Linked DNA regions of Homo sapiens. The protein of the gene in region 2 purifies or fractionates together with the protein of the main gene of each other region. This does not show direct contact. Each region holds a gene or a part of one and is shown on either strand. Other genes may lie near its edges.

Region 1 (3,500 bases), on a different chromosome or scaffold from region 2:
ACAAAACAACAAGAAAAGAAAACAAGTACTGATAAACGTCCCACTACCCTCAGCCACTAGTCTAGTCCTTGGGGACACACAGCTCTAAATGAGATAGTAAGCATCCTGTTCTCTGGCAGCACACATTTTAAGGGCGGGAGAGACTGAGAGGGGACAGTCCTGGATTACGCGTCAGGTGGTGATGAACAGGTGAGACAACAGAGCAAGCATAGCCTGAGTGGCGTCACTTCCTGGCTCTGTGACCTAGGGCAGGTGTCTCAATCTCTCTGAACCTCGTTTTCCTCATCTCTAAAATGAGGATCATAACAGTCCCACCCTCATGGGGCTATTTTGATGGTTAGATGTGCCAATACATGTACAGAGCTTAGAATGCCACCTGGCATCGCTGGGCGTGGTGGCTCACACCTGTAATCCCAGCACACTTTGGGAGGCTGAGGTGGGAGGATCAAGACCAGCCTAGTCAACATGGTGAAACCCCGTCTCTACTAAAAATACAAAAAAATTAGCTGGGCATTGTGGCATGTTCCTGTAATCCCGGTTACTCAGGAGGCTGAGGCAGGAGAATTGCTTGAACCTGGGAGGCAGAGGTTGCAATGAGCCGAGATCGTGCCACTGCACTCCAGCCTAGGCAACAGAGCAAGACTCCATCTCAAAAAAAAAAAAAAGAATGGCACCTGGCATAGAGTTGCTGATGCTGCAGTTTTTAAACTATTATTATTATTATTATTACTATTATTATTTTGAAACGGAATTTTGCTCTTGTTACCCAGGCTAGAGTGCAGTGGCACAATCTCAGCCCACTGCAACCTCCGTCTCCCGGGTTCAAGCGGTTCTCCTGCCTCAGCCTCCCGAGTTGCTGGGATTACAGGCATATGCCACCATGCCCAGCTAATTTTTGTATTTTTAGTAGAGACGGGGTTTCATCATATTGGTCAGGCTGGTCTCGAACTCCTGACCTCAGGTTATCTGCCTGCCTTGGCTTCCCAAACTGCTGGTATTACGGGTGTGAGCCACCACACCCGGCCTATTATTATTATTACTATTATTATTATTTTGACACAGTGTCTCACTCTGTCAGCCAGTGGCAGGATCATAGCTCGCTACAGCCTGGAACTCCTGGGCTTAAGCGATCTTCCCACCTGGGCCTTCCAAAGTGCTGGCACAAGACAGGCCTGAGCCACCCTGCCTGGCCCTATATAAGATATCTTTTTTTTTTTTTGAGACAGAGTCTCGCTCTGTCGCCCAGGCTGGAGTGCAATGGTGCGATCTTGGCTCACTGCAACCTCCGCCACCCAGGTTCAAGCAATTCTCCTGCCTCAGCCTCCTAAGTAGCTGGGATTACAGGTGCCCGCCACCACACCCAGCTAATTTTTTGTATTTTTAGTACAGACGGGGTTTCGCCACGTTGGCCAGGCTGGTCTCGAACTCCTGACCTCAGGTGATCCGCCTGCCTTGGCCTCCAAAAGTGCTGGGATTACAGGTGTGAGTTACTGCACCCGGCCATATAAAATATCTTAAAGGAAACAATAGGCCGGGCACGGTGGCTCACGCCTGTAATCCCAGTACTTAGGGAGGCCCAGACTGGAGGATTGCTTGACACCAGCCTGGGCAACATGGTGAAATTCTGTCGCTACCAATAATAGAAAAAATTAGCCAGGTGTGGTTGCGCACACCCGTAGTCTCAGCTGCTCAGGAGGATGAGGTGGAGGATCACTTGATCCTAGGAGGTAGAGGCTGCAGTGAGCCAAGATTGTGCCACTGCTCGCTCTGTCTGGGCAACAGAGAAAGACTCTTGTCTCAAAAAAGAAAAAAAAACAAAAGAGGCCGGGCGCAGTGGCTCACGCATATAATCCCAACACTTTGGGAGGCTGAGGCGGGTGGATCACCTGAGGTCAGGAGTTCGAGACCAGTGTGGCCAACATGGCAAAACCCCGTCTCCACTAAAAATACAAAAATTAGCTGGGCATCGTGGCGGGCACCTACCTGTAGTCCCAGCTACTCGGGAGGCTGAGGCAGGAGAATTGCTTGAACCCAGGAGGCGGAGGTTGTAGTGAGCCCACATCACACCATTGCACTCCAGCCTAGGCAACAGAGCAGGACTCCATCTAAAAAAAAAAAAAAGAGAAAAATAAAAAAAGTTTTCTATAGGGTGGTTAAGAAGTCTTAACAGGTCGGGTGTGGTGGCTTACACCTGTAATACCAACACTTTGGGAGGCCAAGGCAGGCGGATCACCTGAGGTCAGGAGTTTGAGACCAGCCTGGCCAACATGGTGGAAACCCCATCTCTACTAAAAATACAAAAATTAGCCGGGCTTGGTAGCGGGCACCTGTAATCCCAGCTACTCGGGAGGCTGAGGCAGGAGAATTGCTTGAACCCGGGAGGCGGAGGTTGCAGTGAGCCGAGATCACACCATTGCACTCCATCCTGGGCAACAAGAGCGAGACTCTGTCTCAAAAAAAAAAAAAAATCTTAACAGTTTCCATTCTCCCTTCTCTAACTCCAGGAACAAACCCTATCTGTTTTATTTCAACATTGTGAAATGTGCCAGCCCCCTGGTTCTGCTGGAATTCCAATGTCCCACTCCCCAGGTAACCTGGTCCCCACCGTTCCCTTTTTCCTCTCCCCGCTTCCCATCCTTTTCCCCCTGTGAATGTGGGCTGCGACCTCAGTCCTGAGCAGTCTGCCCCAACTCCACCCAATCCCTTCCTTCTCCCCTCCCAGATCTGCGTGGAAAAATGCCCCGACCGCTACCTCACGTACCTGAATGCTCGCAGCTCCCGGGACTTTGAGTACTATAAGCAGTTCTGTGTTCCTGGCTTCAAGAACAATAAAGTGAGTTGTAGACTGTCCTGAGAGCACAGGTATGGGCAGTGGCAGTGTACTAGACTTGGGGACTCACCTCCCTCCATCTCTCTTGGCAGGGAGTGGCTGAGGTGCTTCAAGATGGTGACTGCCCTGCTGTCCTCATCCCCAGCAAACCCTGTGAGTCAGGGGATCCCAGGAGGCTCAGGTGGTGACGGGGAGGCTCTGCAGAGGCTCAGCCTGACTGGTGCCATCCTCTGCTCCATGCAGTGGCCCGGAGATGCTTCCCCGCTATCCACGCCTACAAGGGTGTCCTGATGGTGGGCAATGAGACGACCTATGAGGATGGGCATGGCTCCCGGAAAAACATCACAGACCTGGTGGAGGGCGCCAAGTGAGGATATTGGCGCACCGCGCCAGGGTCTCACTTTGCTGGGTGGGACAGGCAATCCCCTGTGGTTGGCCTGATCATGGAAGAGGGTCTGACCCGAGCCTTGTCCTCCTTCCCCCAGGAAAGCCAATGGAGTCCTAGAGGCGCGGCAACTCGCCATGCGCATATTTGAAGATTACACCGTCTCTTGGTACTGGATTATCATGTAAGTCAGGAGGGAAGGGGCCTCTCCCCTGGCTGCCCCCTCTAAGCCTGGCTGAGGGTGGAGTCTGTTCATGACCGTTTTCTTTTCCCCAGAGGCCTGGT
Region 2 (3,500 bases):
GGACTTTCTTGAGTGGCAGGTGTCACCCTGGGTCCCGTGTGGGATGGTTTAATACAGGGGTTTGTGTGTTTGTGTGTGTGGAGGGCCACTGCGCCCCCAGATCCTCCTCTCCCCCGAGGGCTGCGTCTCTAAACCTGGGAAAACATCAGCCTCAGGAGGAGGCCCCTTTCCGGGTAACTGATGTGTGGGAGAAGCCAAGAGGCCCCTGCCTGTCTCCTGAATGAGGCTGTGAGGGTTGCCATGTGGGCGGGACCGGTTCAAAATAGCGCCCCCGCCCCTCTAAATTAGACCGTGGTCTCAGCATGATCATCTTCAGTAGATAAGGGACAGTGGCTGATTTACTCCAAATAGTTCCAGCTGGCCACTCAGACCAGGGCCAGAGTTAACTTCTCAAACACCAGCCAGCTGAAAATTAGGGTTCTCGTGCAGGCAAGTGCATGGTTGACACACAGCCCTTTGGTGACAAAGCTGGGCTTTGCCTGCATAGTGCAGACAAGGCTGTTGGTTCAGAGGCTGCAGGGCACATTCCAGGTTGGGGCCTTTTGTCGGTCGGAATTCAATAGGACATTCCCTGGCTGTGGGTGTTTAGGGCAGGAATTACAGGCTTGCAGAGAAAGTCAGAGGCAATGAGATGCTCCCAGTACCAAACTGTGACACTGGGATCAGGGTGGTCATTCCCTTGGGTCAGAGTGGGACCCTAGAGCCAGAGTGAGCTGTGGGTGGCCTGGGTGTGTCCTGTGGACGGCGGAGACTGTTGATTTGGATGTTGAGCTCTGAGTCAGTTTCAGAACCAAGGATCTCAGGCTGAGAAGGCCAGGTCCCCATGGGAGCGGCAGGAGTCTGATGGCTCTGCTGCCAGAGCCTACCCCAGCCTGCCACGCCGCTGACCTTCCCATGGTAAGGAAGGGGCAGGCAGCATGGTTCCCACCCTCAGCTGCCCCAGACCCACACATCCAGCCCCAAGAGCAGCCTCACCCAGGCACAGTGCAGGGCATTTTAGCTCCTGGGAGGGGAGATGCCTTTGTGAGTTTCAGATGTCAGAGGAGAAGCTCCGAGAGAGTAAGTCATGTGCCCCCAAACACTCAGCTCCTAAGTGGCAGGACAGGCAAGTGGCCAGGTTGGGCCGCCCCCACAGCCTGTGCCGTCCACACACTCACTACAGCACTCCCAGAAGAAGGAGCAGAATCGCATGCAGCCCAGAGCAGGTCCTGTGGAGGGGTCCTCACCCCTCAGGAGTAATAGGGTGATTATGTCACATGTTTAGTGATACAATCCCACCTGTGTCTGGATTGTGTCACTAAACATGCAACATAAATTACCATCTCTTCTCCATCCCCTCAGCAGCCGCCCCCACCCCAAGCTGGGAAAATAAGCTTCTCCCTCCCATATGTGGGGGCGGCCCCCTCCTGAGACCTGTCATCACTTAGGGGGAGTTGGGCAAAACCTCCTAGGAAGGTCCTGGACGCCTCCACCCTGCCCCACAAGGCTCCGTACTCCCACCTGCCTGGGCAGCCCTCACACCCATGCTCCCTCCTTTAGGCAGGCCCAGAAAGGTGCCCCTTCCTGAGGGTGTTGGGGGATGGCGGCAGAGAGACAGCTGGTATTAGGAGCTTCCCCATCCTAATGTGCAGGACCAAGTTGCCCGCTCTGCCAGCCAGGGGCTCCAGCCATGCTGGCACAGGCATCTCAGAGGTGTGAGATGAACTCCGCCTCATGCAGGATGCCCAGGGCTCGGAAGCAGTAAGGAGGATGCTACAGAAAGGAACTGCAGAAAGAAAAAAAGCCACATGGTTAACTTTTCCCCTGGAGGGCAAAGGGGTCCGGCTCTCAAAAAGAAAAGCCAGGCACAGATCCCAACACCAAGTGTAAGGCAGCACAAAGTGGGTCTGAAACCCCAGGACCGGGTCAAAGGCCTTCCGAAGGCCCGAGGTTCTTGAGGAGGGGAAGCTGATAGGGCCCTGGTCTTTCTGCACCAGCGTGGCTCTTTAAAATACAAAACACCCACAAAGCCAAAAACCCTGAAACATGTTCTTTAGCTAACCCCTTCCCTGCCCAGATGCCTGCAATTCTGAGAATTCACTTCAGTTTTGCCAGATCCAACCCCTAGGCTTGAGGGTGGAGAGCCAGGCCTCCTCAGGGTCCCTTCTAGGCTCCCAGGCCCACCTTAGGCTTTAATTGCATTGGCTGTTTCTTATGGTGTTAGTGAATTTTGCAAAGAAAGCCCTGAGCATTGCATAAATGCTTGGGGGCGTGTCATTTAAATGGAAGTTCTCCAATAGTGGCTGAAGGCAGAGTTTACTGTTATCCCTCCCTCTTGCTGGCTTTGCTGGAGGGCTTTTATCAGAGAGATTGGAGGTGGGAGAGCACTTTTAAAGCACACCCCACCCCCTGCACCCGAGCGGCACCTAAGCTTCCCAGAGACCATGACCTTGTATGTGGCTGGAGGCCTCAGGCTTAGGGAGCAGCCTGAAGCCTTTGCTGTCAACCCTCCCAGGAAAGAAGCCGGGCCTCAGGCTGAGGAAAAACAGAGTTTCCTCTCCAGAGGGCTCAATGAGCAGCCAGGTAGTGGCCTCGGGCAGTCCTCACCAGGGGGACACCTCCCTGCTTTGCATTAACTCATCAGCAAGCTCATCGAGAGCTAACGTGGGCCCAGCAGTCCTGTGCTTGGAAATGATGCCGTCACCTCCACACTCCTGCTGTTCCAGCCTCTGCAGGTGAAGCTGCAAGGTGAGCAGAGGCAGGCGTGGGGACACACTCTTCAAGGACTGCACTGCCCCTTCTCCCTCCTGAGAGCTCTGTGCACTGGGTTTGGGGATGAGGCGCCAGCCTGGTCAGGGGAGGTGACTGTGGTCCTTCTGACCAGCTTGGATCTTTAAAATAATCACAAAAAAGCTCAGCCTGAGCAGGTGGGTGCAAGGCTCAGGGGCCTGTGTTTTTCATCAATCAGTTTTCTTCCTGCAAGATTCTTAGAGCTGGATGTTCACGGGATCATGGGGCATGGAGGTGGTCACGCTCAGACAGTCATGCACCACCCTCAATCCCAGGCCCTGCAGAGATAGGAAGAATCCCAACCAGAGGGATTCTTCCCCAAACGTTCCCTTGTGGCCCAAGAGTGAGTTCCGGCCTGAGTGCTGTTATGACTGCCGGCGTCTCTCCGACTGCCTCTCGCCTCAGTTTAACCATCTATAGGTTAGGAACAAAGAAGGGCTTAGGCAGCCATCGTTTCCCCATTTCTGTCAGAGCCAAGGGCTTGGAGGCCCAGCCCCATCCGGGCAAGGGCTGTCCGCTCCTGCCCAGGCCTCACCTCCTCGCTGCAGCTGGCAAGATTCTTTCTAGCAGAACAGAAACACTGGCCCCCAATTCCACTCTCCCCTCCTGATGCTACCGCAGAGGGCAGAAAGGTGCCCTGTAGCGTCCACCATGTGTGTGTCCTGAGTTTCCAGTGCAAGTCATCTGGATTTGCATTTAGCTAGGGAAACTCGGCCCTCAAACCCTCTCCC
Region 3 (2,156 bases), on a different chromosome or scaffold from region 2:
AAGTAATGCTAGCCAGAGGCTATTTCCACTGTGAAATGCACACTCAAAGTCCTATTGTAATATTATTTTAAGGGTCTTAGGAGGCCCCTCAGAGGAGACTGCAAGGTCAGGGCTAGAGTATGAGAAGTCCTAAGGGTTTTTGTATTTTGTTTTTTTTTCCTATAAACCCTGAGGTTGAAAGCTCTGGATAGCTCACCTAAATTACTTTCCTCTAATCTAACCCCTCACAGCCTGAATTTCTGAGTATTGCTTGACCAGTAGTGACACATTCCTGAGGCACTAATATAACCCAAATGGAAACTACAGGTCCTAGGAAATCCAGATAGGTCACAATGGGTTCATGTGAAGATCAAGGTGAGCCAGAAGATCTCATCTGCAAGCCATTTAGCAGCCCTTTAACTGTAAAAAGCAGTTCCACTTTCAAAGGCTACAGAGTTTGTTTACATACAAGGTCTCCATGTAACATGTTGGATTTCTTCCCACTGTCATGGGCCAACCCACACTAGACTCAGAAGTCAAGGGAAAGCTCTGCCAGCTAAACACTTCTTATCAAAGAGGGTGTGAAGAAACCTTGCAATTTTAACAATAACTAAGACCAGCATGTAAGGTGGTCTTACAGAGATCACTTGCAGGAACAGATATTGATAGGAACTTCAGAACTCAAACAGCACTCACATAACATGGAATTTATGCTGAAAATCCCATGCCTTCTCTCTCAGAAAAGAGAGGAGCATACCTGTGTGGAGAGCTTGTATTTTCTCCCCTCCCATCCATTCGGTTTACAACTGAATAGCGAATGTGAACTTGAAACTAATCTTTAATAAATCTATAAAATGCAAGATATTATGACCAAGTTCTGTACTCCGTTTTTACTGAAATGACTTCTACTTCATCAACGTACGGTCTGTTCCTGAAGAAACTTCCTCTTTCTGGGTCAAATTCTGACTGAGAATGTAAAGGTAGGTTATCTTTGAGACTTGAGCTTAAAACTCCTACCTTTTCATACCACTTGATCTCTGTTGCCCTGTGAAAATTCTGTAAACCTTCCTCATTGCATCTGAGGAATCATGCTGGAATGCTTCTTTCTGGCTCGGAGGGTTCCAAGACCTCCCCAGCTAGTGGACCTTCCTAGTCCTTATGCCGTTGCTGTAGCAATGGGGCAGGTCAAGTTTCCTGATCATAGCTGTGAAGCACTCTGGGGCACCTCTGCTCCTGGTATTTCAGGGTGATATTACATCACTGCTGCTAATTTTGGTAGCTCTAAAGTATTCTCTTAAAGACCTCTAAGAACCTGATATTTATGCTAATAATTACCCAGCAAGAAACATTAGCTGTAGTTTTTTGCAATATCACTTTATACAGCTAAAATCACTTTGTATATGTATAGTAACTCATTGTATATATTTGTCTCTTATGAATATGTGCTAATTACATCTATAAATCAACCAGTATATAATTAACAAAAACAAATGATTTTTTAGCCTTTTAATGCAAAAAATTTAAATTTAGTATTACATATGATCTGGCTAAGAGCAAGAGGCCTTCTTATGAGTGATCTCCATCACCCTGTACAGTGCCTGGCACAGAATCTAGAGTTTAGCCAACTCTCAACAAATGTTTTAGTGAATGAATGAATGATTGACTAAAGAAAAACATGAGTTACTTAGTGACCAAATCTAATACTCAGTGGAATAGCTGATTATAATCGCTAAAATATTCATAATAGAAATAAAGAGATCTGTATGCAGTCTACTCCATATAGTCAAAAGATCTCATGGTAGCCTTTTCTAAATGAAATTTTTCTTAAGTAGTGTAAGAATAAATTTAAACTAATTATAATTATCAGTGACTTCTTAGGGAGATGTTTTAGGAAAAATTATTAATATTTCTACCTTTAAATACTTTCCAAAAAGGAAATCTTCAACGCTTAAGAACTACCCCCCAACACTTTTTTTTTTCCTTGGGACAGTGTCTCACTCTCTCACCCAGGCTGGAGTGCAGTGGCGCCATCTTGGCTCACTGCAGCCTCGACCTCCTGGACTCAGGTGATCCTCATACATCAGCCTCCTGAGTAGCTCAGACTATAGCCACACCACCGTGCCCAGCTAATTTTTTTTTTTTTTTTTTTTTTTTTGTAGAGATGGGGTTTTGCCATG

Evidence for each region. Proteins that work in one complex are often made in the same cells at the same time.
Region 1: the proteins of STUM (region 2) and SLC44A2 purify together in Homo sapiens (affinity purification with mass spectrometry; one large-scale study listed by BioGRID and IntAct). This does not show direct contact.
Region 3: the proteins of STUM (region 2) and TMEM245 purify together in Homo sapiens (affinity purification with mass spectrometry; one large-scale study listed by BioGRID and IntAct). This does not show direct contact.

What each region holds. Positions count from the first base shown.
Region 1 is NC_000019.10:10,628,553-10,632,052, forward strand, and holds part of SLC44A2 (choline transporter-like protein 2), read left to right. Parts: intron 1-2,504; coding exon 2,505-2,589; intron 2,590-2,722; coding exon 2,723-2,833; intron 2,834-2,922; coding exon 2,923-2,983; intron 2,984-3,073; coding exon 3,074-3,197; intron 3,198-3,315; coding exon 3,316-3,399; intron 3,400-3,491; coding exon 3,492-3,500.
Region 2 is NC_000001.11:226,604,264-226,607,763, forward strand, and holds part of STUM (protein stum homolog), read left to right. Parts: 3' UTR 1-3,500.
Region 3 is NC_000009.12:109,016,792-109,018,947, forward strand, and holds part of TMEM245 (transmembrane protein 245), read right to left. Parts: 3' UTR 1-2,156.